Homo sapiens: one gene and its partners. The protein of the gene in region 3 purifies or fractionates together with the protein of the main gene of each other region. This does not show direct contact. Each region holds a gene or a part of one and is shown on either strand. Other genes may lie near its edges.

Region 1 (2,950 bases), on a different chromosome or scaffold from region 3:
CTGTAGTCCTGGCTAGTCAGGAGGCTGAGATGGAAGGATCACTTGAGCCCAGGAGTTGGAGGCTGCAGTGAGCCATGATGCTGCCACTGCAGGACAGAGCAGACCCTGTCTCTAAATCAAATAAAAATTAAATAAGGGCTATGGGCTGGTGGGCACAGTGGCTCACACCTGTAATCTCAGCACTTTGGGAGGCGGAGGCAGGCAAATCGCTTGAGGCCAGGAGTTTGAGACTAGCCTGGCCAACATGGTGAAACCCTGTCTCTACTAAAAAATACAAAAATTGGCCGGGTGCAGTGGTGTGCACCTGTAATCCCAGCACTTTGGGAGGCTGAGGCGGGCGGATCACCTGAGTTCAGGCATTTGAGACCAGCCTGGCCAACATGGTGTAACCCCGTCTCTACTAAATATACAAAAATTAGTCCGGCATGATGGTGTGCATCTGTAATCCCAGCTACTCAGGAGGCTGAGGCAGGAGAATCGCTTGAACCTAGGAGGCGGAGGTTGCAGTGAATGGAGACTGTGCCACTGCATTCCAGCCTGGGCAATAGAGCGAGACTTCGTCTCAAAAAAAAAAAAAAAAGCCAGGTGTGGTGGTAGGCTCTGACTGTAATCTCAGCTACTTGGGAGGCTGAGGTTGCAGTGAGCCGAGATCGAGCACTCCAGCCTGGGCGACAGAGCGAGACTGTCTCAAAAAATAAATAAATAAACAAATAATAATAATAATAATAATAATAAAGAGCAATGGGACCCAGCAGAAGGATTTGAAGCAGGAGTGGGGAGCATCTGGTTATGCTAGAGAGGAAGATTCATGAGTGAAGGTGAAACCAGATTACCTCATCTCCCTCCTACCCCAGCCTAAGGTGCTGGGCGACGTGTGGGGCGAGATCGGAGGCTAGCCGGGCTTCACGCCTGCGCCCCCAGGTAGCCACGGTCTCTGCTGCCCCCTCGCGGCTGCTTCTTGCCTCGCAGGCCCTGATCCTTTGGATTCGGTCCGCGCAGAGCGCCAACTGGACATGGTGCTAGAGGTTGGGTGGTCAGACACTGTGATCCCGGGTGCTGTGCCCGCACTACGGGAAGGGGAAGCAGCGCGTGGGTCTCGCATCAGGAGGCAAGGCCAGGACCCGCTGACCCATGCCTCCTGCCGCGGTCAGAGCCCAAGTTTGTCAAGGTATTTTGGATCCCGGAGAGCGAGAACCCAGACGACGACAAAATCTACTTCTTCTTTCGTGAGACGGCGGTAGAGGCGGCGCCGGCACTGGGACGCCTGTCCGTGTCCCGCGTTGGCCAGATCTGCCGGGTGAGGAGTCCCTGGGCCACACCCGGCGACCCTGCCCCTACCCCTTTGCCTGCCCTGGTCTCGCCCTCATCCCCTTTGATCGTCCCGGCAGAACGACGTGGGCGGCCAGCGCAGCCTGGTCAACAAGTGGACGACGTTCCTGAAGGCGCGGCTGGTGTGCTCGGTGCCCGGCGTCGAGGGCGACACCCACTTCGATCAGCTCCGTGAGTGCGGGAGTGGGTATGGGGTTGGGGAGGGGGGCAGCGGCGCAGACTCCGGGAGCCCCCGCCGCAGCGGGGCTGTGCGCCCTACCCCAGCTAGGCCCCTTCCCCGCAGAGGATGTGTTTCTGTTGTCCTCGCGGGACCACCGGACCCCGCTGCTCTATGCCGTCTTCTCCACGTCCAGGTGAGGGGCAGGAGGTAGGGAGCGCCCGGGGCGGGCCGCTGGGCTCCACCCGGCCCCTCACCTCGCCCTGGTCTTCGCCTCCAGCAGCATCTTCCAGGGCTCTGCGGTGTGCGTGTACAGCATGAACGACGTGCGCCGGGCCTTCTTGGGACCCTTTGCACACAAGGAGGGGCCCATGCACCAGTGGGTGTCATACCAGGGTCGCGTCCCCTACCCGCGGCCAGGCATGGTTCGTAGCCCAGGGACTTCTGCTACAACCCACTTCAAAGCCTCAAGGGTTTGAGAACTTGGCCTGGGGTCTTCTTGGTGAATGTGGTTTCTTCCTTTAGTTATGGGTGGGAAAACGTTTCCATCATAAGACAAGGCTTGTTTCCCGCCTCTGACTTCCTAGGGCAAGGCTGATCTCCTCTCTAATTCTCAGGGCAGGGTTCTGTCCCCATCCCCCTCCATGTTCCCAGAGGCTGGGCATGGAGGGCTGCCTATCAAGCCCCCATATCTATATCCCTGCTGTGCCTCCCTTTCCCCCACCCCCAGTGCCCCAGCAAGACCTTTGGCACCTTCAGTTCCACCAAGGACTTCCCAGACGATGTCATCCAGTTTGCGCGGAACCACCCCCTCATGTACAACTCTGTCCTGCCCACTGGGGGGCGCCCTCTTTTCCTACAAGTTGGAGCCAATTACACCTTCACTCAAATTGCCGCGGACCGGGTTGCAGCCGCTGACGGACACTATGACGTCCTCTTCATTGGCACAGGTCAGGGTCCCTCCACAGCGACCCCCAGGCTCCCAGCCAGGCCCTGTGGGCTGCTGATGGAAGCTCTCCCTGTTCAGTCCCATCTCCACATCCTTTCCTGGGCTGTGTCTCCACCCTGTGGATGCTGCCCAACCCACACTCTTCCAGTCCACACTCTTCACAACCCAAACATGCTGAGGGTAGACGCCTCAAAGGCGAGGAGACACTAGCCCCAGCTGTCCGGGAGCACCAATGGTCATTACCCCTTCTCATCCCTGCAGACGTTGGCACGGTGCTGAAGGTGATCTCGGTCCCCAAGGGCAGTAGGCCCAGCGCAGAGGGGCTGCTCCTGGAGGAGCTGCACGTGTTTGAGGTGAGGCCTCACCCCCAGTCGCCCGGGACCCCCCCACCCCACTAAGCCCTGACCCCGTCGCCCCTCCTCCCTCTCAGGACTCGGCCGCTGTCACCAGCATGCAAATTTCTTCCAAGAGGGTGAGTGACCAGGATGGGGGTCGGGGTGGGATGGACTGAGCTT
Region 2 (3,500 bases), about 130 Mb from region 3:
CATTATGGGACTCTTCACCAATTTATAATTTTTTGTAGCAGTTACACAGGAACAGTATTCAGTTTACTGATGGATATGAAGTAAAAGAAGATATTGGAGTTGGCTCCTACTCTGTTTGCAAGAGATGTATACATAAAGCTACAAACATGGAGTTTGCAGTGAAGGTAAATTTTTTTTATTTAAAATGCAATTCATACAGTTCTTGTTCATGCATGTCAGTACCAGTTAAAAATTACACTCCCCTTGTTGTTAAAAGTGCCTTTTGTTATAAAAAAGTTAAATATCTGGCTAGTGATCTTCAGAGATCTTAATCTAGAACCCTGTGAGCTAAAGGTAAGGTGGTTATATATCTAGTTTTCCCAGAGCAGTAGCAGTTTACACCTCAAGTGATTTTTTTTCTTTTTTTACCTCAAGTGATTTTTAAAGTATCTTTTTACTCTGAGAAGTCCCCATTTTATGCTCAGGGTGTCAGCAAATTCCTCAAAATTGTGTGCAAAATTTTGTATGTTTACATCTTCTCTGGCAAAAAGTTCATACCTTTCTTTGCATCTAAAAGGATCTGGGAACTAATGAATAAAAACCACTATCATAAAATTCGTTATCATTGGCTGTTTTAATTTCATCAAGTATCCTAAGACAGAATTTTCTAAGCCAAAAACCAAGGAACCTAGCTCTACGATAAAGTTTGAATTTCAAACCTTTAGTCGTAAGTGAACAAGCACTATGTTCAAGTCTCTTTTCACTTCTTGGAATAGTAACCTCTGCTCTCCAATCTCAAGCAATTCAAACAATGTCTAAAGCTTTCAACTTGTTTGAACCTTAGGACTGGTTTATAAATATACATAGCTCATGTTTAGAGAGATAGTGACATTAGTTGTTATCACTCTTCTAAACTTAGATGTAACTGCTTTAAAGTCGTCAGTGTCTATAGGGCTTTCTGTCAGATAGAAGGATGAACCATAAAAATACATTTAATTTGCTTCATTGGAAGGACAATAAAGCTAATTTTAAAGAAGGAAATTCTTAAAAGAAATACATTTAATTTTCTATTTTCCTATTCATTGCTCTTACTGAAATCTAAGATACATAGAAGTTTTCAAATTGCTTACATGAAAGGAGAAAAGACTAATAATGTATTTGGTAGGCAGTTTAAGGATGTGTCTTGCCTCCATAAATACATCATAAAAAGCAGAAATGTCCTGAGGCCCCTTTGAATTACAGAAACCTTGAGGACTATGCCTAAAACCTCAAAAATATCTCCAAGCTATTTGTGGATTTTTGTAACTTAAATGATTCATAAAACCAATCCCAACACAACTGGATTCTACTGAAATTACCACATATTTGAGGTCCACAAGCACAAGTATAGATCTAATGCAAACTGGGCTCAGATTAGCAGATCCATGCCAAAAACGACCCCTCCCAGTGTGTTCTGGTTTTCAAAAGACTAGTCCCAGGTCATCTCTTAAATTAGCATGTCTATTCCATATACCTCTCCTCTTAATCACCCATTTGCCTAATTCCACACTATCATTTGCAGTTGATTACAGTGGGCACCTGTATGTTTACCTTCCCTGTTCTCCAAATACAGAACTGTTATACAAGTACAGTCTACCCTTGAATAACACAGGACTTGGGAGTGCTGATCCCCAAGCAGTTGAAAATCCACGTATAACTTGACTCTCCAAAACTTAACTGCTCATAGCCTACTGTTGACCAGAAGCCTCACTGATAGCATATATAGTCGATTATTTTGTATGTTATATGTATTATATACTGTATTCTTACAATAAAGTAAGCTAGAGAAAAGAAAGTGTTATTAAGAAAATCATGCCAGACATAGTGTCTCACGTTTGTAATCCTAGCACTTTGGGAGGCCGAGGTGGGAGGATTGCTTGAGGCCAGGAGTTTGAGACAAGCCTGGGCAACAGAGCAAGACCCTATCTCTACAGAAAAATTGTTTAAAAATTAGCCAGGCGTGGCTACATGTGCCTGTAGTCCCAGCTACTCAGGAGGCTGAGACGGAAGGATTGCTTGAGCTCAGGAGGTTCAGGCTGCAGTGAGCTATGTGCCACTGTACTCTAGCCTTGGCAACATAGCCAGACCTCATCTCTACAAATAATTTTTAAAATTTTCTGAGTGTAGTGGTATGTGCCTGTGGTCCCAGCTACTCAGGAGGTAGAGGTGGGAGGATCACTTGGGCCCAGGGGTTTGAGGTTGCAGTGAGCCGTGATTGCGCCACTACACTCCACCCTGGGCAACAGAGCAAGACCCTGTCTCAAAAAAAGAAAAAATATATATAAGGAAGAGAAAATACATTTACTGTTCATTAAATGGAAGTGGATCATAATAAAGGTCTTTTTCCTCATCATTTTCACCTTAAGTAGGCTGAGGAGGGAGGAAGAAGAGAAGGAGTTGGTCTTGGTGTCTCAGGGGTGGCAGAAGCAGAAGAAAATCCACGTGTAATTGGTCCCTCATAGTTCAAACCTGTGTTGTTCAAGGGTCAACTATAAATCCATTTCAGATAGAAGACTGGACCCATGCTTGAGAGTTGTAACCTCTTTCCTAGGTTGCTGGAGTGTCTGGGTATTTAGTGCATACTTAATTACTAAGCTGTTTAAAATTGAACATACAAAGGCCACCTAATTTGTTTCAGACTACCCTTTGAATGAATAGAAAGCAAAATTTGTCTTTTTTATATAATATTAGTTGAGCAGATTAAAACATTAAGAAAAATATTTTTAAGGAGCAGCCAATATAAAAGGGTTAGAAAGCTACATTACTATTTTAAAGGGCTTTATTATAATAATTAAACCAAATTCTAACCAAATAAAATGCTAGGTATGATTTTCTATGTAGCTTTCTGCCTAACTTCAAAAACAAGATTGTTCTACTTAGCAGATAATTAGCTTTTATAAGTAGCTTACAGCTAACAGGATATTCAATTGAAGCATTTTATTAAAGGAAGTAAACTTAATTCAATAAGCAGATGCTAGTGGTGGTGTTATATCTAGCTCTTAATTATCTGTATTGATGGGGGGTTAGAAGTTGACTGAGTTCCCAAATGTTTAAGGCCTCAAGGATAGAAGAAAAGATATGTTAACTGTGTTCTTGGTACCTTTTCTCGAGGCTTTTTGAGTTTTTGGTTAAGTCCTAAACTTACTACAAACTTACAAACTTAGATTGGAGAGGCATGGTGGGAATGCGACTCATGAGTTAGAATTTACAGCCTTGCCATCTATATCAAGACTGGCTTTCTGATTAAACAATCTGGCCAGGTAGTTGAATAAAACTGACTGATAAATGGCTTATTTATACACTATTTACATGAGGTAATACCCAAGGTCTGTAGCTATAAACAATTAATGTTTATAACTGTATAGTTGATGAGGTTTTGTGATAAACATTTGCCTTTTAGATTATTGATAAAAGCAAGAGAGACCCAACAGAAGAAATTGAAATTCTTCTTCGTTATGGACAGCATCCAAACATTATCACTC
Region 3 (2,759 bases):
CTCACGCCTGTAATCCCAGCATTTTGGGAGGCCGAGGCGGGCAGATCACGAGGTCAGGAGATCAAGACCATTCTGGCTAACATGGTGAAACCCCATCTCTACTAAAAATACAAAAAATTAGCCGGGCGTGTGGCAGGCACCTGTAGTCCCAGCTACTCGGGAGGCTGAGGCAGGAGAATGGCGTGAACCCAGGAGGCGGAGCTTGCAGTGAGCCGCGTTTGCGCCACTGCACTCCAGCCTGGGCGACAGAGTGAGACTCCGTCTCAAAAAAAAAAAAAAAATTCTGACATATGCTCCAACATGAATGACCCTTGAGGACATTTTGCTCAGTGAAATGAGCCAGTCACAAAAAGACAAATACTGTAGGATTTCACTTTTTTTTGAGACGGAGTCTTATTGTCGCCCAGGCTGGAGTGCAGTGGTGCGATCTTGGCTTGATCTTCACAGAGCAAGACTCTGTCTCAAAAACAATTTTTTTTTTTGGAGACAGAGTCTCACTCTGTCACCCAGGCTGGAGTGCAGTGGTATGATCTCGGGAGGTCACTGGGAGGCTGGTGCTGGGCAGCAGCTAGTGCCACTTTCTCTGTTCCATATTTCAGCGCTTCCAGAGCCAGAACTGAGCCCAGTGAGAGCGCACCCTGGGGCAGCCTGGATTCCTGGGGTGTCCCCGGCAGCCACACACAGCCATGCACTACCCAACTGCACTCCTCTTCCTCATCCTGGCCAATGGGGCCCAGGCCTTTCGCATCTGCGCCTTCAATGCCCAGCGGCTGACACTGGCCAAGGTGGCCAGGGAGCAGGTGATGGACACCTTAGTTCGGGTAAGTTCATCACTTCAGGGAAGCCGTGCCCCTAACCACCATGAGCCAAAGCCCCCATCCCTGCCTGACCAGGGGTATGTTCTAGAGAAGAGGGGAGAAGAAGAGGTGTGGCACGGAGATGCAGCGCAGGCGCTTGCCTGCTGCTGGCCTCAGTCTCCTCCTCTGTGAAACAGGTGACATGTGGGTGGGATGAGTCTTTTCCTGGGGCATTTCCAGTCCCACTGCTTTCTGTGGGCTGCAGTCAGTGAGCCTTAACACTCTGGGCCACAACAGTGCCAGTCCCCTGGGCCCACTGCCTCCTCTCAGGGCAGTTGGCACTGAGTCAGGCTGGCCTTCCTGATGTCCCACAGATACTGGCTCGCTGTGACATCATGGTGCTGCAGGAGGTGGTGGACTCTTCCGGCAGCGCCATCCCGCTCCTGCTTCGAGAACTCAATCGGTGAGGAAGATTCTGTGGGTCTAATCAGGGGCACACCCAGAGGCTTGAGGCCCTGACCCCGCCTCCCCTTTTCTTGGCAGATTTGATGGCTCTGGGCCCTACAGCACCCTGAGCAGCCCCCAGCTGGGGCGCAGCACCTACATGGAGACGTATGTGTACTTCTATCGGTGAGCACGGAGCTGGCAGCGCAGCAGGGTGGGGGGCGGTCCTTGGCCCTAATGTGAGGTAGGCTCATTAGTCCCCGGGGCCACAGGCCCCCCATCCTGGGACAGCCTCACCTGCTTTGCATGCTTTCTCTTCTCAACACCTTTTATTCTGGGCTCTTCCCATCCTCGACCCCCGCCAGAGTGTCCATAGAGCAGGAGGCCTTCCTTCTATAAGCACAAATGTGGGGTCCCTCCTCCTCTCTCCTGTGGGAGCTGCTGGGGCTCAGGGTGTGGCTGGCCCCCTCTATGAAAGTGGCCAGCAAGGGCTGCAGCTCCTGGGAAGAGGCTCCGTGGGGACCACTTATGGGCCTTGGGTAGACCCGATCTTCTAAGTCCCTGGGAGGACAGGCTGGCAGGGAGCCCTTTGGAGTCAGGATCCAGAGGGCAAGGGAGGCTGCAGGGAAGGAGAACTGATTCTCTATATAAATAAAATGATATGACATCTGGTATGCGCTCCAAAATTACTGGGTAGGCAGGGTACAGTGGCTCATGCCTGTAATCCCAACGCTTTGGGAGGCTGAAGCAGCAGGATCACTTGAACCCAAGAGTTCAAGGCTGCAGTGAGCTATGATTGTGCCAGTGCACTGCAGCCTGAGCAACAGAGTGAGACCATGTCTCAAAAAAAAAAAAAAAAAAAAAAAGAATGACATCAAAGTGTCCAAATGTCAAAATGTACTATACCCAGTCCGTGGAATATTATTCAGCCAGAAAGAGGAATGAAGCACAGACGTGCCACAGCATATGGACGAACGCAGAAAACATTGATGAGCTGATTTCATTCATATGAAATATCCAGAATAGGCAAATGTACAAGATAGAGAACAGATTAATGGTTGCAGGGGCTGGGGGGAGGGGAGAATGGAGAGTAACTGGTAATGGATGTTATGTTTTTATTAGGAGTAATGGATACCAATGTTTTAAAATTGATTGTAGAAATAGTTGCACAGCCTTATGAATGTACAAAAGAACCGTGTTGTATACTTGAAGCAGGTGAATTTTATGGCATATGAATTATGCCTGATTTTTGAAAGTTCTAGAGACAGGTTGGGAGGGCTGTGCCCACATTGCCGCTGTTAGTGGAGGGCCCCTCCCTGAGCGCCGTTTGGCACTTGCAAGCCAAAATCAAAGACGTGGGGCCACTGCTGCCCATCCCTTTGTCCTCCCAGGTCACACAAAACACAGGTCCTGAGTTCCTACGTGTACAACGATGAGGATGACGTCTTTGCCCGGGAGCCATTTGTGGCCCAGTTCTCTTTGCCCAGCAATGGTAGGAAGGGAAGGGTGGGCTTGGTA
Region 4 (3,500 bases), on a different chromosome or scaffold from region 3:
TTGAATCTGGGAGATAGAGGCTGCAGTGAGCCGAGATCGTGCCACTGCATTCCAGCCTGGGTGACAGAGTATGACCCTCAAAAAAAAAAAAAAAAGAATAAACTCCATGAAGAAAAAAATCTATACAGTAGTAGTAAAGGGAAGCAATACAAAGGAAAAAGAAAAAAAAAGACAAAGCAATCACTGGAATTTCCCAGGGCTGTTTTATTAAGAAACCCCAGCAATCAAATATTTTATTATACTACACTGGTATTTTCAGAAGGAAGCACACTGGCATACATGCCACCAAACAGCAGTCACTAAAAAAGGCATGTTTGATGTGGAGTGTGGAAACTTGAATAAAGAAGAAAAACAAATAATAGGAAAAAATAATTAAAAACTGAAAAAAATTTTAAATAATTTAAAAAGCATGTTATAGCCGGGTACGGTGGCTCATGCCTGTAATCCCAGCACTTTGGGAGGCCAAGGCGGGCAGATCATGAGGTCAGGAGATTGAGACCATCCTGGCTAACACGGTGAAACCCTGTCTCTACTAAAAATACAAAAAATTTGCCGGATGTGGTGGCAAACGCCTGTAGTCCCAGCTACTCGGGAGGCTGAGGCAGGGGAATGGCATGAACCCGGGAAGTGGAGCTTGCAGTGAGCTGAGATCATGCCATTGCACTCCAGCCTGGGCGACAGAGCGAGACTCCGTCTCAAAAAAAAAAAAGCATGTTATATTTTTATGTATACACACATGCTAAAGAGCAGCTGCTTAATAGATATTCACACTTAAAAGAGATGAAACCCTGAAATGTCTGTTTAAAAAAGATCATTTACAGTGTACACTGAGGTTAGGAGTCATTCTAGTTCAAATACGCCAGACATTGGTATTAAAATAACCAAATCTTCCCTGTCTTATCCTCTCATAAAGAGTTCAGGACCAAGGTGGTAGGAGTGCTTGAGACCAGGAGTTCAAGACCAGCCTGGACAAAGTAGCAAGACCCCATCTCTACAAAATATCCACATAAAAAAATTAGTCAGATGTGGTGGTGTGCACCTGTAGTACTAGCTACTAGGCAGGCAGGCTGAGGCAGGAGGATCCCTTGAGCCCAAACGTTTGAGGCTGCAGTGAGCTATGATTGCACCACTGAGTTCTAGGCTGGGTGACAGAGTGAGACACTCTTATTTAAAAAAAAATAAAAGACGGATGGACAGACAAACGGAAGGAAGGAAGGAAGGAAGGAAGGAAGGAAGGAAGGAAGGCAGGCAGGCAGGCAGGCAGGCAGGCAGGAAGGCAGGAAGGCAGGCAGGCAGGCAGGCAGGCGAAAGAGCCACCATGCTATATCATAACTACCTGTCTATGGGCCTGTCTCATTTGTATATCTCTAGTGCCTAGCACATAGTAGGTATTTAATAAACGTTGAATGAATGAACTACTACTTAGATCAGTCTACTACTCAGTGCTATTATTATTATTATTATTATTATTATTATTATTATTATCATTTTCGAGACAGGGTCTTGCTCTTGTCACCCAGGCTGGAGTGCAATAGCGCAATCTCAGCTCACTGCAACCTCCGCCTCCCAGGTTCAAGCAATTCTCTTGCCGCAGCCTCCCGAGTAGCTGGGATTACAGGCATGCGCCACCACGCCGGCTAATTTTTTGTATTTTTAGTAGAGATGGGGTTTTACCATGTTGGCCAGGCTGGTCTCAAACCCGACCTCAGGTGATCTACCCGCCTTGGCCTCCTAAAGTGCTGGGATTACAGGTGTGAGCCACCGTACCCAGCCTCAGTGCTATTATTTTACATAATTTTATCTAATCCTCATAACTACCCTGTGGGAAAGCTACCATTATCCTTATTTTACAAAGTAGGAAACTAAGAATCCGAGTGGCACACGAACAATCAATCTCTTTCACTTCCTCTTCCAGACATAAGCTCTAACCTCATTTTGCCTTGGCTAATGCTTTTTTTTTTGAGACAGAGTCTCACCCTGTCACCCAGGCTGGAGTGCAGTGGTGCAATCTCGGCTCACTGGCCTCACTGGCCTACCAGGTTCAAGTGGTTCTCCTGCCTCAGCCTCCCGAGTAGCTGGGATTACAGGTGCCCATCACCATGCCCGGCTAATTTTTGTATTTTTAACAGAGAAAGTATTTCACCATGTTGGCCAAGCAGGTTTTGAACTCCTGACCTCAGGGGATCTGCCCACTTTGGCCTCTCAAAGTGCTGGGATTACAGGCGTGAGCCACCACGCCCGGCCTGCCCTGGCTAATTCTTACTCTTCCAGTCTCAGCTTTAATGTCACTTCTTCAGGAAACTACTTCCCTATGCCAAAAACCAGGGCAGGTTCCTCATCACGCAGAATAAAATCCACACATCCTACCATGGCCTCCAGGCTCATGTGTACCTCTCCCCTAGATCACTCTGCTCCAGCCATAGGGGCCTCCATAGACATGGGAACATGAAGATGCTCCCACTCAGGGACTTTGCACTTCCTGTTCCTCTGCCTGTGATATTCTTCCCTAGACCCTCAAATGCCTGGCTCATTCATTAAGTCCACTCACATATTAACTCTTCAGAGTCTCTCTCCACAGTAATTTCCAATTCCATTACTCTTGGTTCCAATACTGTTTTATTTTCTCATCAATTTATCCCATTTTTAAATTACTTGTGCATTCAGGTGTTTAGAAGCTAGCTGTCCATTACCACTAGAATGAATACTCCACAAAGGTCGGGGCTTAGTCCCGCTCACTGCCTCAGCCTGTGTCTAGAAGTGCCCACCCGGTATATAAAAGACACCTGAAGAGTATTTGTTGAATGAGTAAGAGACAGAAGGCATGTGTTGCGAAGTCATCCAGTAAGCTTAATGTCACTCATTTAAGTCAATGAATGTATATTGGCAGATTTTAAGTCAAAATAAAGTTTCAGGTGCATACTCCTTTTGTGTGATGTTCTGCTTTAACTTATCTTTTCATCCAACATCTTCTAGTCTAGATCCCATCAGCGAGGAAGGCTTCTAATATGACTAGCCCAGAAGTTACACTGCACTCGACAGCAGTGAGGACTGGCTATTCCCAAGTTCTGCTCTAAACTACATGCCTTGCTAAGCTGCTGACACAAAGTCTAGAGTATTTGAGTTATAATTTGTGGATAATTATCATAGAAGTATCAAACCCAAGAAATGCCCAAATTTCTGAGGCTTTAGCAAAGCACTTCCTGTCCACTTGCTCATTTGCAGCATCTACTTGAAAGCCAGAATGATCAGTCATCAAAATATTGTGTTTTTAACACAATATAAAAATCATATTTAGACAATTTTTGATGTAAAACTCAGATTAGCCGAGCACAGTGGCAAGCATCTGTAGTCTTAGCTACTTTGGAGGCTGAAACGGGAAGATGGCTTGAGCCCAGGAGTTGGAGGCTATCGTGCACTATGTTTGCACTGGTGAATAGCCACTGTACTCCAGCCAGGGCAACACAATGAGACCTTATCTCAAAAAAAAAAAAAAAAAAAAA
Region 5 (2,228 bases), on a different chromosome or scaffold from region 3:
CTGGGCAACAAGAGTGAAACTCCATCTCAAAAAAATAAAAATAAAATAAGTAAGTAATACCTAAAATTCTGCAACCTTCATTTTACTATAGATGGTTGAAGATTATATTACTTCTTAATTGTTTTAGCCTTGTTATTGCTTCATTACTTCATGGTTGTTGAGTACAGATGCTCAGTAATCATAACCTATGAAATATTTGACACCATGATCTAAACATTAAAAACAAATAACTGTGCTATTGCCACAGCTATGTTTTGGCTTTGAATTTTCTTTACTGAATATTTTGGATCAAGAACACTAGATGAGAAACCTGTTCAACTCTGTTCTTTTTTTTTTTTTTAACTCCACTGTATTTATTACCTGTTTTTGTTTTTTTTGTTTGTTTGTTTTTGATGTGCATATAGACCAAGATGTGGTAAATTTAAATGGCAGATGTTTTTGATGTGGTACATTTAAGGGAGAGAAAGCAGTTTAAAGAGCAGGGTGAAAAATCCAACAAGACTCCATCGAGAGTTTCTGAGCTCTCCCATCAGGGGCCAGTCCTCCTTTCCTCTCTCCTCTTACTCCCATGATTTCCAAGTTGTGATCCTTTCCTTATTTCTGAGGAATGACTTGGTTTCTCCTCTTCTTTTTTTGGCCTGAGAGAAGATGTTTTTGCACTTGTAGCTATGAGGAACAGATTGTCCACTAGGGAGGCCAGCTGATCATTTTCTGCCAGAGTCACACAGAGCAGTCACACCTTATTTTGAAAACCACTGTCTGGGGTCTTTGTCCTCACATATGCAGGTCTAGTGTCCCCACAAAGTGATCAGATGGATATATAAAGTGGAGTGCCAATGTATTAATTTACTGTGAGAAACACAATTGCTAAGTGGGTCAGATATCTGTCTCAGCTGGTCAGTACACCTTCCAGCAGGAAAATCTACATAAGAACAACTAAATCACAATCTGTAGAGTGCTTGATGACCCCAGAATTGGTGCAAGGGGACACATTCTTGCTTGTTAGCACCTGCTCTCTGGAGTTTGCTATTTTCTCACACACAGTGTATTAGTTCACAGAATGTTCTCCAAGGAGGACAGGGGGCTTTGCCCATAGCCATGTGCTGTGGGCAGCAGAGCTAGGAAGAAGCACAGGCATCTCCCAGCCCAGGTGTTTCCCACTTAACTGCATTGCCCTTTTCATCTTTTTTTTTTCCCCAATAGCTTCAGGACATTCAGTACATTGTGCTTTTTAGAGGTTGATGATTCCACTGCCTGAGCTGCCTTCACCTCTCTTTCTTTGGAAATTGCCATCTTTGAGCATTGTATGTCTCTGTAACATCTCTGCATCTCCTTTTCACTCTGGCCTCCCTTTCTCCATTGTCCTTCTAGCTTCTGGTTGCCCCAAACCCCACAGACTGTGTAACAAAACCCAAAACCTATTGGTTTAAAACAATACCCATTTTATTTTCTTTCATAGTTTCTATGGGTCAGGAATTTGGATATGGCTTGGGTAAGCAGTTCTGGCTTCTCATGGAGTTGGAGGCAAGTGGTGGCTGGAACAGAAATGGGGCAGCCAGGGGTGGTGGCCAGGCATCAGCTACATCTCCTCCATGTAGTCTCAGGAACTCTCCATGTAATCTCTCTGTGTGGGTTGGGCTTCCTCACAACATGGTGGCCTCAGGGCAGTCACTGCTTACATGGCAGCTAGCTTCCCTCAGAGTGAGTATCCCAAGAGATCACAGTCAAAGTGCATAGCATTTATATAATCTAATCTTGGAAGTCACAAAATGTCATTCTTGTGATACTCTCATTGGTGAAGAAGTCATAAAATCCTGCTCAGGTTCAAAAAGAGGGTGTATAGAACCCAACACTCAATAGGAAGATTGTCAGAGTTACATTGTAAGAAGAGCATGTAGTTGGGAGATATCATTGTGGCCATTTTGGGAAAGATGCAACATGTCACAATGTCATGTTCTCCATCGTCTCCCCGTTCCACCTTGTACTGGTTTCCAAGGGTAGTCGTTTAAAAGTACCACAAAAACTGGGTGGCTTGGAACAACAGAAATTTATTGTTTCACAGTTCTGGAGGCCAGAAGTTCAAAATGAAGTGTTGGCAGAAACATGCTGCCTCTAAAGGGACTGGGAAAGGATCTGTTCCAGGCTTCCCTCCTATCTTCTGGTTGTTCCTTGCCTTCTGGCTGCGTAACTCTAGTCTTCATTTGGTGTTCTCCCTGCATGCATGGCTT
Region 6 (4,145 bases), on a different chromosome or scaffold from region 3:
CCCAACTCTCTGTCTTTGCCTGTTTCTCTCTCTTCTCTTGTTAAAGCTGCAGAAATCCAGTTTCTTAGAACAGCAGGCAGCCATGTGGTGCTCAGATCCAATTGATAAGGCCTGGGCACAGTTCAGGTTCTGGGACTGGGCCAGTGAGCCTGGAGAAGGACATGTCAGCTGGCTGGGCATTTCCCAGGGAAACTGGGCTCTGTTCTCTGGTGTCTTGGGTGTGTGTCCCTGCTGCCCCCAGCCCTGGCATCCTGGGCACTATGGCACTGACACATTGCTAGCACACTACCACCAGGCAGGCTCACCAAGGCTGCCCCGAGGCTGCCGGCCCCGGGAGCCTGCCTCTGGAAGCTTTGGGGTGCTGACATGATTGGGGAGGGGAGGACTGGCATCTCTCTACAAACAGTACAGAAATGGCCCTCTTCTTTCAGGGAGGACAGCAGATAAATTTCAGCCAGAGAGATTTAGGACACACTGTACTTGGGCTGAGGCAGTCAGGGCTTCTCTGTTCTTGTGATTTCTTTTTTCTTTTTTCTTTTCTTTTCTTTTTTCTTTTTTTTTTTTTTTTTTGAGACAGGGTCTCTCTCTGTCACCCAGTGGCACGATCTTGGCTCACTGTAAACTCTGCCTCCCAGACTCAAGTGATCCTCCCACCTCAGCCCCCTGAGTAGCTGGGACTACAGGTCCATGCCACCATGCCTGGTTAATTTTGTTCGTTTTTTGTAGACAGGGTCTCACTATGTTGCTCAGGCTGGTCTTGAACTCCTGGGCTCAAGCAGTCCTGCCTCAGCTTCCCAAAGTATTGGAATTATAGGCGTGAGTCACTAAGTCCAGCCTCTTGCAGCGCTTAAGAATGAAGACCTAGCCAAGCTAGGGGTGGGTCCAGAGCTGCCTGAAGGTGGAGGGACATGAGCTGTCCACCACGATGGAGGGGTGCCATGCAGCTCGGGGATCACTGCAGCATGTTGTCATGACAGCCAAGGACTGTGGAATTCCCATGGGCAATGTGACACCCCCATCAGGGTGCTGGGGTCTGCCAGGCCCCAGGCAGTCCTCATATGTACCTTGGCCTGTGAGAGGACCTCTACTGAGAGACCATGCCCTGACATCTGGGCTTCTGCAGTGGTGAGATGCCTGCCTGGGGTTTGGATTCCATGGCCTCTGGTGCATCTGAGGAGCTGAAGGGCCGCAGGGGGACCCTGCCTGCCTGTGCTGCCTGCTGTGCCGGGTGCTGGGAAAATAATCCGCAGTCCCTGTCGTCCCTGAGCTTTCAGGCAGATGTTTATCAGAGAATTCCCCTGAGCTTGTGTTGTAGTCTGTCTGCTGCTGCTTTAACAGAATACCCGGGACTGGATAATATAAAGAAAAGGCAGTTTTTGGCTCATGATTCGGGAGGCTGGGAAATCCACGATTGGGTGGGTGCATCTGGCGGGAGCCTTTGTGTTGCATGACAACATTGTGGAAGGTGAGAGGGCAAGAGCACTTGCGGAAAAAAGCATGCTGGGCCGGGCTTGCTCTCTAGAATAACAACCGCTCTCCCGTAAGGAACCCGCTGCCCTCCTGACCTAGGCAGCTCCTCTCAATACTGCTGCCTTGGGAATTAAGCTTCCAACACTTGAACTTTTAGGGAACACACTCAAACCACAGCAGCATATAAGCAGAGAAGGCCAGTCAGGGGAGGCCGGTCAGTGGCGGTGAGGTGTGCAGGGAGCCGTGGAGTGAATGGGGCCAATGCGGGGGTGCACCTGGAAGTCGGAGCTGCGCCTCCAGAGGCCCCAGGGGAGAGTTAGAGTGACAGGAGTGGGTGTGAGTGGGTCCAGGCCGCGCACAGTGGGGGCAGAGCCTGCAGAGCCTCGCAGTCCCAGGGAAGGGATTGATTTTGTCTTTATCACCCGCAATGCCAGGCTGTGAGGGTTTGGGGGCTGGAGGAGAGGGTGAGAGCAGGAGGCACTGGATCGCAGGACACAAGGGACAAAGGTGGAGCTGACAGAATTGGGGTGTGTTTTGGAAGCGAAGCTGGCAGGACTGAGGGGTGAAGTAGGAAAGGACTAGGGGATACCTCTCAGCCTCTCCTGTCCCAGGATGCAGGATTGCACCCCTCCTCAGTTTCCTCTGCCAGCCCCAATCAGCCCCACGACTTCCTGCTGCCGCAGGAAGCACAGGTGGTCCACTGTGGCCTCCTCTTCTCCTGGGCTTCCCTCTTGCCTTGTGCATCTTCCCTGTGCTTCATTCTCCCCTGGAGTTAGGGCAGGCATTCCTTCTTTCTCCATACAGGCACACTTCCTACAGCTGCACGGGAGATCTCTGCCCCCTCCCAACCCTCTACCTCTGACCTTCAGGTAACCTGCCTGCTTGTCATGGTTCAGGTGTTGGCTTTCCCGCTGCTGGTAGCCCGGCAGGATTGGCTCCCACCATGTTCTGCTGATAGAGCTGGGCTTCTGCGCTTTACAGACAGGCTGAGTTTCTCCACTTAGGAGGTGATGACGATGAGTCTCAGGGAGGCTAAGTGCCAGCCATGGTCATTCAGCAAGTCAGTGGTGGAGCAGGAATTTGAAGCCAGCCTGTCTGCCTCCATGCTGCACTGTTAGATTACATTTATGCTATTTGGGAATTAGTTAATTTTTATTCTCCTGCTAGACCTTAAGCTCCTTGAGGGTAAGACTATGTCTCCATCGTGGTTTCTTCAGCACCTGGCACCACACAAGTGTTTCTGTTGGTGGATGAATGAATGAATAGACAGACAGACTTGGGGATAGAGGAAGAGGTGGGCCCTCAGGGGTCAGCCTCGTGCCTTCCTGTCTGAAGGGCAGAGCTAGCCAGGTGTGAGCTAACTGCTCCCTGTGTGTTCTCTCCCCACCCCCACCCTACCTGGCCTGCGGCTGTGGCGGATGGCAGATGTTCGCCGAGGAGGAGGCTGAGCTGACCCAGGAGATGTCCCCAGAGAAGCTGCAGCAGTATCGCCAGGTACACCTCCTGCCAGGCCTGTGGGAACAGGGCTGGTGCGAGATCACGGCCCACCTCCTGGCGCTGCCCGAGCATGATGCCCGTGAGAAGGTGCTGCAGACACTGGGCGTCCTCCTGACCACCTGCCGGGACCGCTACCGTCAGGACCCCCAGCTCGGCAGGACACTGGCCAGCCTGCAGGCTGAGTACCAGGTGCTGGCCAGCCTGGAGCTGCAGGATGGTGAGGACGAGGGCTACTTCCAGGAGCTGCTGGGCTCTGTCAACAGCTTGCTGAAGGAGCTGAGATGAGGCCCCACACCAGGACTGGACTGGGATGCCGCTAGTGAGGCTGAGGGGTGCCAGCGTGGGTGGGCTTCTCAGGCAGGAGGACATCTTGGCAGTGCTGGCTTGGCCATTAAATGGAAACCTGAAGGCCATCCTCTTTCTGCTGTGTGTCTGTGTAGACTGGGCACAGCCCTGTGGCCGGGGGGTCAGGTGAGTGGTTGGGTGATGGGCTCTGCTGACGTGCAGGGCTCAGCCCAGGGCATCCAGGAACAGGCTCCAGGGCAGGAACCTGGGCCCAGGAGTTGCAAGTCTCTGCTTCTTACCAAGCAGCAGCTCTGTACCTTGGGAAGTCGCTTAATTGCTCTGAGCTTGTTTCCTCATCTGTCAGGAGTGCCATTAAAGGAGAAAAATCACGTAGAAAGCTTCACACTAGTGCTGGCACCCCCCAGCTGTGAGGTAAGGCAGGGAATCATCTCACTGCCCCTCTATCGGTGCCCACATAACAGCCTCAAGGCCGCTGACCTGGCCGGCGCCTGAGGCCTGTCCATACACTGGTGCTGTGGTGACCCAGGCAGCTGATGGGCTTGACAGCTGCTGGAGTGATGGGTGCTGGAGCAATGGGTGCCGGGGTGGGGTGCTGAGAGGTGCTGGACTCTGGAGGCCCAGGGGCCAGGCCTTACTCTGGGAGAAAGCTGGCAGTGGGAGCCCAGGGGAGCCCAGGCCTGCCTGGCCCACCTGACAGGGGAGAAGTGCCTCTCTGTGGCCTTGCACCACTTCTGTGTCCAAGCAGAAACAGGGCCAAGCCCAAGGAGGAGGCCTCAGAGCTGGGAGCAGCCGTGCCTGGCGAGTCCCGGCCCCTACCCAGGCTGGCGGAGTCCCGGGCTGGAGCTGGCTGCAGGTTGCCATGGCAACCCGGG
Region 7 (3,958 bases), on a different chromosome or scaffold from region 3:
CTTGGGCCTCTTCTGTCTGCTATTTTTTTTTTTAATATTGCTAATCTCAGGCTATGGTCTGAGAATCAAACAGCAAACATTTTTGCACTTCTATTTTCTAATAAACTATCTGGATTCCTCCTAAAAGTTGGAACTGAGGTAGAGTTGACATCTAATTTCACAGCCATGTTGATACAAATGAAGCAAATCTTTACAATATTTCAATATGTATAATTCCAAGGCACAATGAGCAAGGTATAGGAGTATGTCCCCTGTGTCTAGCTGTTTCTCCAGGCTTCTCCAGAATGATGGATGAAAATGTAATTGGCAAGTCAAATGTCTACTGTGGAAGCCTACAGGAAAAGGGATGTGAAATGCTTGACGTGATGAGGGATGCAGAGTGTTCAGCACTTATTTACTGAGCAGCTCATCACCTGATTGTATAGTATACAATATATGAGAATTTATAGAACAGTGAACATGTAAACACATAGAACAAATAAACATATACAACATATAAACACTGTTTTTAACATTTATTACATACATAGAACATATAAGAATTTATAGAGCAATGAAAATACCACATTTTGACATTTGTATTGTACTGTGAAAGATTTATATGTATTTGTATAAAAAATAAATAAAGGTGATAATCTCTTGTGATTTCCCCAAAATACAGCATCCTTTTCATCTTTTTCCATTATGTAAATATGGTATGATAGAAATATAATATGCTGTGAAGTGATAGACATCATGACATATCAAAATGTATTATATATACACATATATATACATGTACATATTTATTGAAGTATAATTTATATACAAAATATACAAATTCCAAATATGAAATTCAGAGTTTTGACAAATGTCCACACCAATGTAACCATAGTCAATCAAGACATAGAACATTTCCATCACTCCAGAAACTTCCCTTGTGTTTCTCTGCAGTCAACTCCCATCCCACCTCAACCCAGGTAACTACTGATACAATTTCTACTGCTATATCTTAGTTTCGCTTGTTCTAGGACTTCAGAATGTACCCTATAGTGTCTAGATTTATTCATTCAACACAAGGTTTTTTAGATTCAGCCATGTTTGTTGCAGTTACCAGTAGTTTTGTCCATTTTATAGCTGAAGAGTATTTCATTATTAATACAACACAAATTGTTTGTCCATTTTCTTGTTGAAGGTCTTTTAGGCAGTTTACAGTTTGGGGATATTATAAGTAAAGATGCTATAAACGTTCTTGTGTAAGTCTTATAATGGGCATAAGTTTTCATTTCTTTTCAATCTAGGATTGGAATTGTTGGGTCATAGGTTTCATGTATGCTTAATTATATAAAACAATGTTAAACAATTTTTCCTAAGTGGTTGTAGCATTTTACATTCCAACAATAATGTATGAGAATTATAATTGCTCCATATTCTCAACAACACGTGGTACTGACAATATTTTTAATCATAACCATTTTAGTGGGAAGAATAACTCACTGTGGTTTTAATTTGCATTTCCTTAATGACAAAACGATATTGAACATTTTTGTGTGCTTTTTGTCCACTGGCCTAGCACTTTTCGTCATTTTTTCTTATATTCATTATTTTCATTTTATTTTTGCTAATTATTGAGTTGTTAAGAGTTCTTTATGAACTATATTCTGAAAAAAATTTACAGCATTCAAATAAAGTGTTGCAAATATTTTCTCCCAGTCTGTAGCTTGACTCTTATTCTCTTAACAATGTATTTTAAAAGGAGAGTTGTTAATCTTAAGGTCAAATTTATCAGATTTTTATTTTATATCTTGCTATTTGCTTTCTATTTGTCCCATTTGTTCTTTGTCCTCTTTCTCATCTTTTTTGTCTACTTTCAAGCATTTAAAAATTTATTCTATTTCATCGCTGCATTGTAATATTATTGTGTAATATTGTAATATTATCACTGTTTTTGTTACTCTAGCATTTGCTTTAGGGATTACACCATACAGATGTTTTAACTTAAAGATAACTTGTAATAGCCAACTTTTAATAGGCATTATACGACTTTACACACAGTCTAAGAACCTTACAAACTAAACTATATTTCCATTTACTCTAGGTTATTGTTGTCATATATTTTACTTTTACTCATGCTGCAGAACTCACATGACACTGCTATTATTTCTAAACAGCCAATTATCTTTAAAAGATATTTAAGTAATAAGGGCAGGTATTGTATATTTACTTATGGTGTTACTATTGCCAGTGCTCTTCATTTCTTTGTGTGGATCCATGTTTCTATCTGCACAAAGATATTATTCTTTATTTTCCTTCTTCCTGAAAGGCTTTTACACTGTTCTCATAGTCCAGGTTTGCTGATAATATATTACTTTTAACTTTTCTATGTCTGAAAAATATCTTTGTTTCATCCTTTCTTGAAAGACGGTTTTGCTGGGTATAGAAACCTAGGAGAGAGAGTTTTCTGCTTTTGGTTGGAAGATGTTTCACTGGAAGCATGAAAGATGTTGCTCCACTGCCCTTCCCCTTGCATTGCTTCCAAAAAGAAGTCTGGTATCATCCTTGTTTTTCTTCTCTGTGTAAGACTTGTCTTTTTCTCTTTACCACACTGAGTTTTGATCCATTTGCTTATGATGTGTTGTGATGTGGTTTTCTTAATAGCACCCCTACTTGGGGATGTTGAGCTGGGTCTGTGGGTTTATAGTTTGCATCAAATGTGGAAAATGCTTATGTATTAATTTTTAAAAATATTTTTTTCTATCCATCCACTCTCTTTTCTCCTTTGAGAACTCCAAATACACACAGATTAGGCAACTGAAGTTGTCCCACAGATCACCGATACTCTGATTATTCTTTGTTTTTTTTCTGTCTCTGTTTCATTTTGGATGCTTTCTACTGCTATATATATTCAAGTTTATTAATATTTTCTTCTGAAAACTCTCATCTGCCATTAATTACATCCATTGTATTTTTTAATCTTATACATTAACATTGTCATCTCTCGAAGTTTAATTAAAGCCTTTTCTTGTCACATCCTAATCTTTGAAAATACGGAATATAGTCATAATATTTTTCATTAGTAATTCTAACATCTGGGTATGTGCTGGGTCATTTTAGATTGATTTTTATCCTCATTATAGGTCCTATTTTTCTGCCTCTTCACACACTTGGTAATTTTTTATTGTATACCAGACATTGTGATTTTACCTCGTTGGGTGTTGGATTTTTTTTTGATGGAGTCTGGCTCTGTTGCCCAGGCTGGAGTGCAATGGCGCAATCTCGGCCCACTGCAAACTCTGCCTCCCGGGTTCATGCCATTCTCCTGCCCCAGCCTCCCGAGTAGCTGGGACTTCAGGCGCCCAACACCACGCCCGGCTAATTTTTGTATGTTTAGTAGAGACGGGGTTTCCACCTTGTTAGCAGGATGGTCTCCATCTCCCGACCTCGTGATCTGCCTGCCTCGACCTCCCAAAGTGCTGGGATTACAGGCATGAGCCACTGTGCCCGGCCTGGTGTTGGATAGTTTTATGTTACTGGAAATACATGTGAACTTTGCTCAGAGATGCCAATTAGTTATTGGAAACGGTTTGATCTTTTTTTCCAAATCTTTGAAGATTTGTTCAGTGGGGCCGCCATAGTAATACATGGTCTAGGACTTGCCAGGACTGAGGCAAGACCCCTATGAATATTCTACCTAATGCCCTATTAATTATGGGGATTTCTGGTATAGCCCATGGCAACCACCTCTATTCATGGTTGTATGTGAACATGCACTCTCAGTGAGAGTAATATTGTCCCCAAAACGACAGAAATTAGTTTTTTTGGGGGGGATGGGAGAAGTGAAGAGAAGAAAAATATTCTTTTTGTGTAAAGCCCAGATATACGTATAGTACTAAAGAGATATGCAGTGCATGTGCGATATTAAAATTTCAGGGCGGGCGCAGTGGCTTACGCCTGTGATACCAGCGCTTTAGGAGGCTGA

The links.
Region 1: the proteins of DNASE1L1 (region 3) and SEMA3B purify together in Homo sapiens (affinity purification with mass spectrometry; one large-scale study listed by BioGRID and IntAct). This does not show direct contact.
Region 2: the proteins of DNASE1L1 (region 3) and RPS6KA3 purify together in Homo sapiens (affinity purification with mass spectrometry; one large-scale study listed by BioGRID and IntAct). This does not show direct contact.
Region 4: the proteins of DNASE1L1 (region 3) and GPR107 purify together in Homo sapiens (affinity purification with mass spectrometry; one large-scale study listed by BioGRID and IntAct). This does not show direct contact.
Region 5: the proteins of DNASE1L1 (region 3) and MR1 purify together in Homo sapiens (affinity purification with mass spectrometry; one large-scale study listed by BioGRID and IntAct). This does not show direct contact.
Region 6: the proteins of DNASE1L1 (region 3) and SIL1 purify together in Homo sapiens (co-immunoprecipitation; 2 studies listed by BioGRID and IntAct, with this or other methods). This does not show direct contact.
Region 7: the proteins of DNASE1L1 (region 3) and CNTNAP3 purify together in Homo sapiens (affinity purification with mass spectrometry; one large-scale study listed by BioGRID and IntAct). This does not show direct contact.

What each region holds. Positions count from the first base shown.
Region 1 is NC_000003.12:50,272,147-50,275,096, forward strand, and holds part of SEMA3B (semaphorin-3B isoform 1 precursor), read left to right. Parts: intron 1-972; exon of another isoform or gene 973-1,151; coding exon 1,152-1,297; intron 1,298-1,388; coding exon 1,389-1,500; intron 1,501-1,597; coding exon of another isoform or gene 1,598-1,612; coding exon 1,613-1,682; intron 1,683-1,766; coding exon 1,767-1,911; intron 1,912-2,216; coding exon 2,217-2,436; intron 2,437-2,696; coding exon 2,697-2,788; intron 2,789-2,865; coding exon 2,866-2,907; intron 2,908-2,950. UniProt on the Homo sapiens protein: Inhibits axonal extension by providing local signals to specify territories inaccessible for growing axons.
Region 2 is NC_000023.11:20,169,410-20,172,909, reverse strand, and holds part of RPS6KA3 (ribosomal protein S6 kinase alpha-3), read left to right. Parts: intron 1-38; coding exon 39-164; intron 165-3,418; coding exon 3,419-3,500. UniProt on the Homo sapiens protein: Serine/threonine-protein kinase that acts downstream of ERK (MAPK1/ERK2 and MAPK3/ERK1) signaling and mediates mitogenic and stress-induced activation of the transcription factors CREB1, ETV1/ER81 and NR4A1/NUR77, regulates translation through RPS6 and EIF4B phosphorylation, and mediates cellular proliferation, survival, and differentiation by modulating mTOR signaling and repressing pro-apoptotic function of BAD and DAPK1.
Region 3 is NC_000023.11:154,403,496-154,406,254, reverse strand, and holds part of DNASE1L1 (deoxyribonuclease-1-like 1 precursor), read left to right. Parts: intron 1-599; 5' UTR 600-686; coding exon 687-821; intron 822-1,171; coding exon 1,172-1,260; intron 1,261-1,340; coding exon 1,341-1,427; intron 1,428-2,632; coding exon 2,633-2,733; intron 2,734-2,759.
Region 4 is NC_000009.12:130,060,406-130,063,905, reverse strand, and holds part of GPR107 (protein GPR107 isoform 3 precursor), read right to left. Parts: intron 1-3,500. UniProt on the Homo sapiens protein: Has been proposed to act as a receptor for neuronostatin, a peptide derived from the somatostatin/SST precursor.
Region 5 is NC_000001.11:181,057,983-181,060,210, forward strand, and holds part of MR1 (major histocompatibility complex class I-related protein 1 isoform 1 precursor), read left to right. Parts: 3' UTR 1-2,228. UniProt on the Homo sapiens protein: Antigen-presenting molecule specialized in displaying microbial pyrimidine-based metabolites to alpha-beta T cell receptors (TCR) on innate-type mucosal-associated invariant T (MAIT) cells.
Region 6 is NC_000005.10:138,946,224-138,950,368, reverse strand, and holds the end of SIL1 (nucleotide exchange factor SIL1 precursor), read left to right. Parts: intron 1-2,895; coding exon 2,896-3,252; 3' UTR 3,253-3,645; downstream 3,646-4,145.
Region 7 is NC_000009.12:39,064,210-39,068,167, forward strand, and holds the end of CNTNAP3 (contactin-associated protein-like 3 isoform 1 precursor), read right to left. Parts: 3' UTR 501-3,958; downstream 1-500.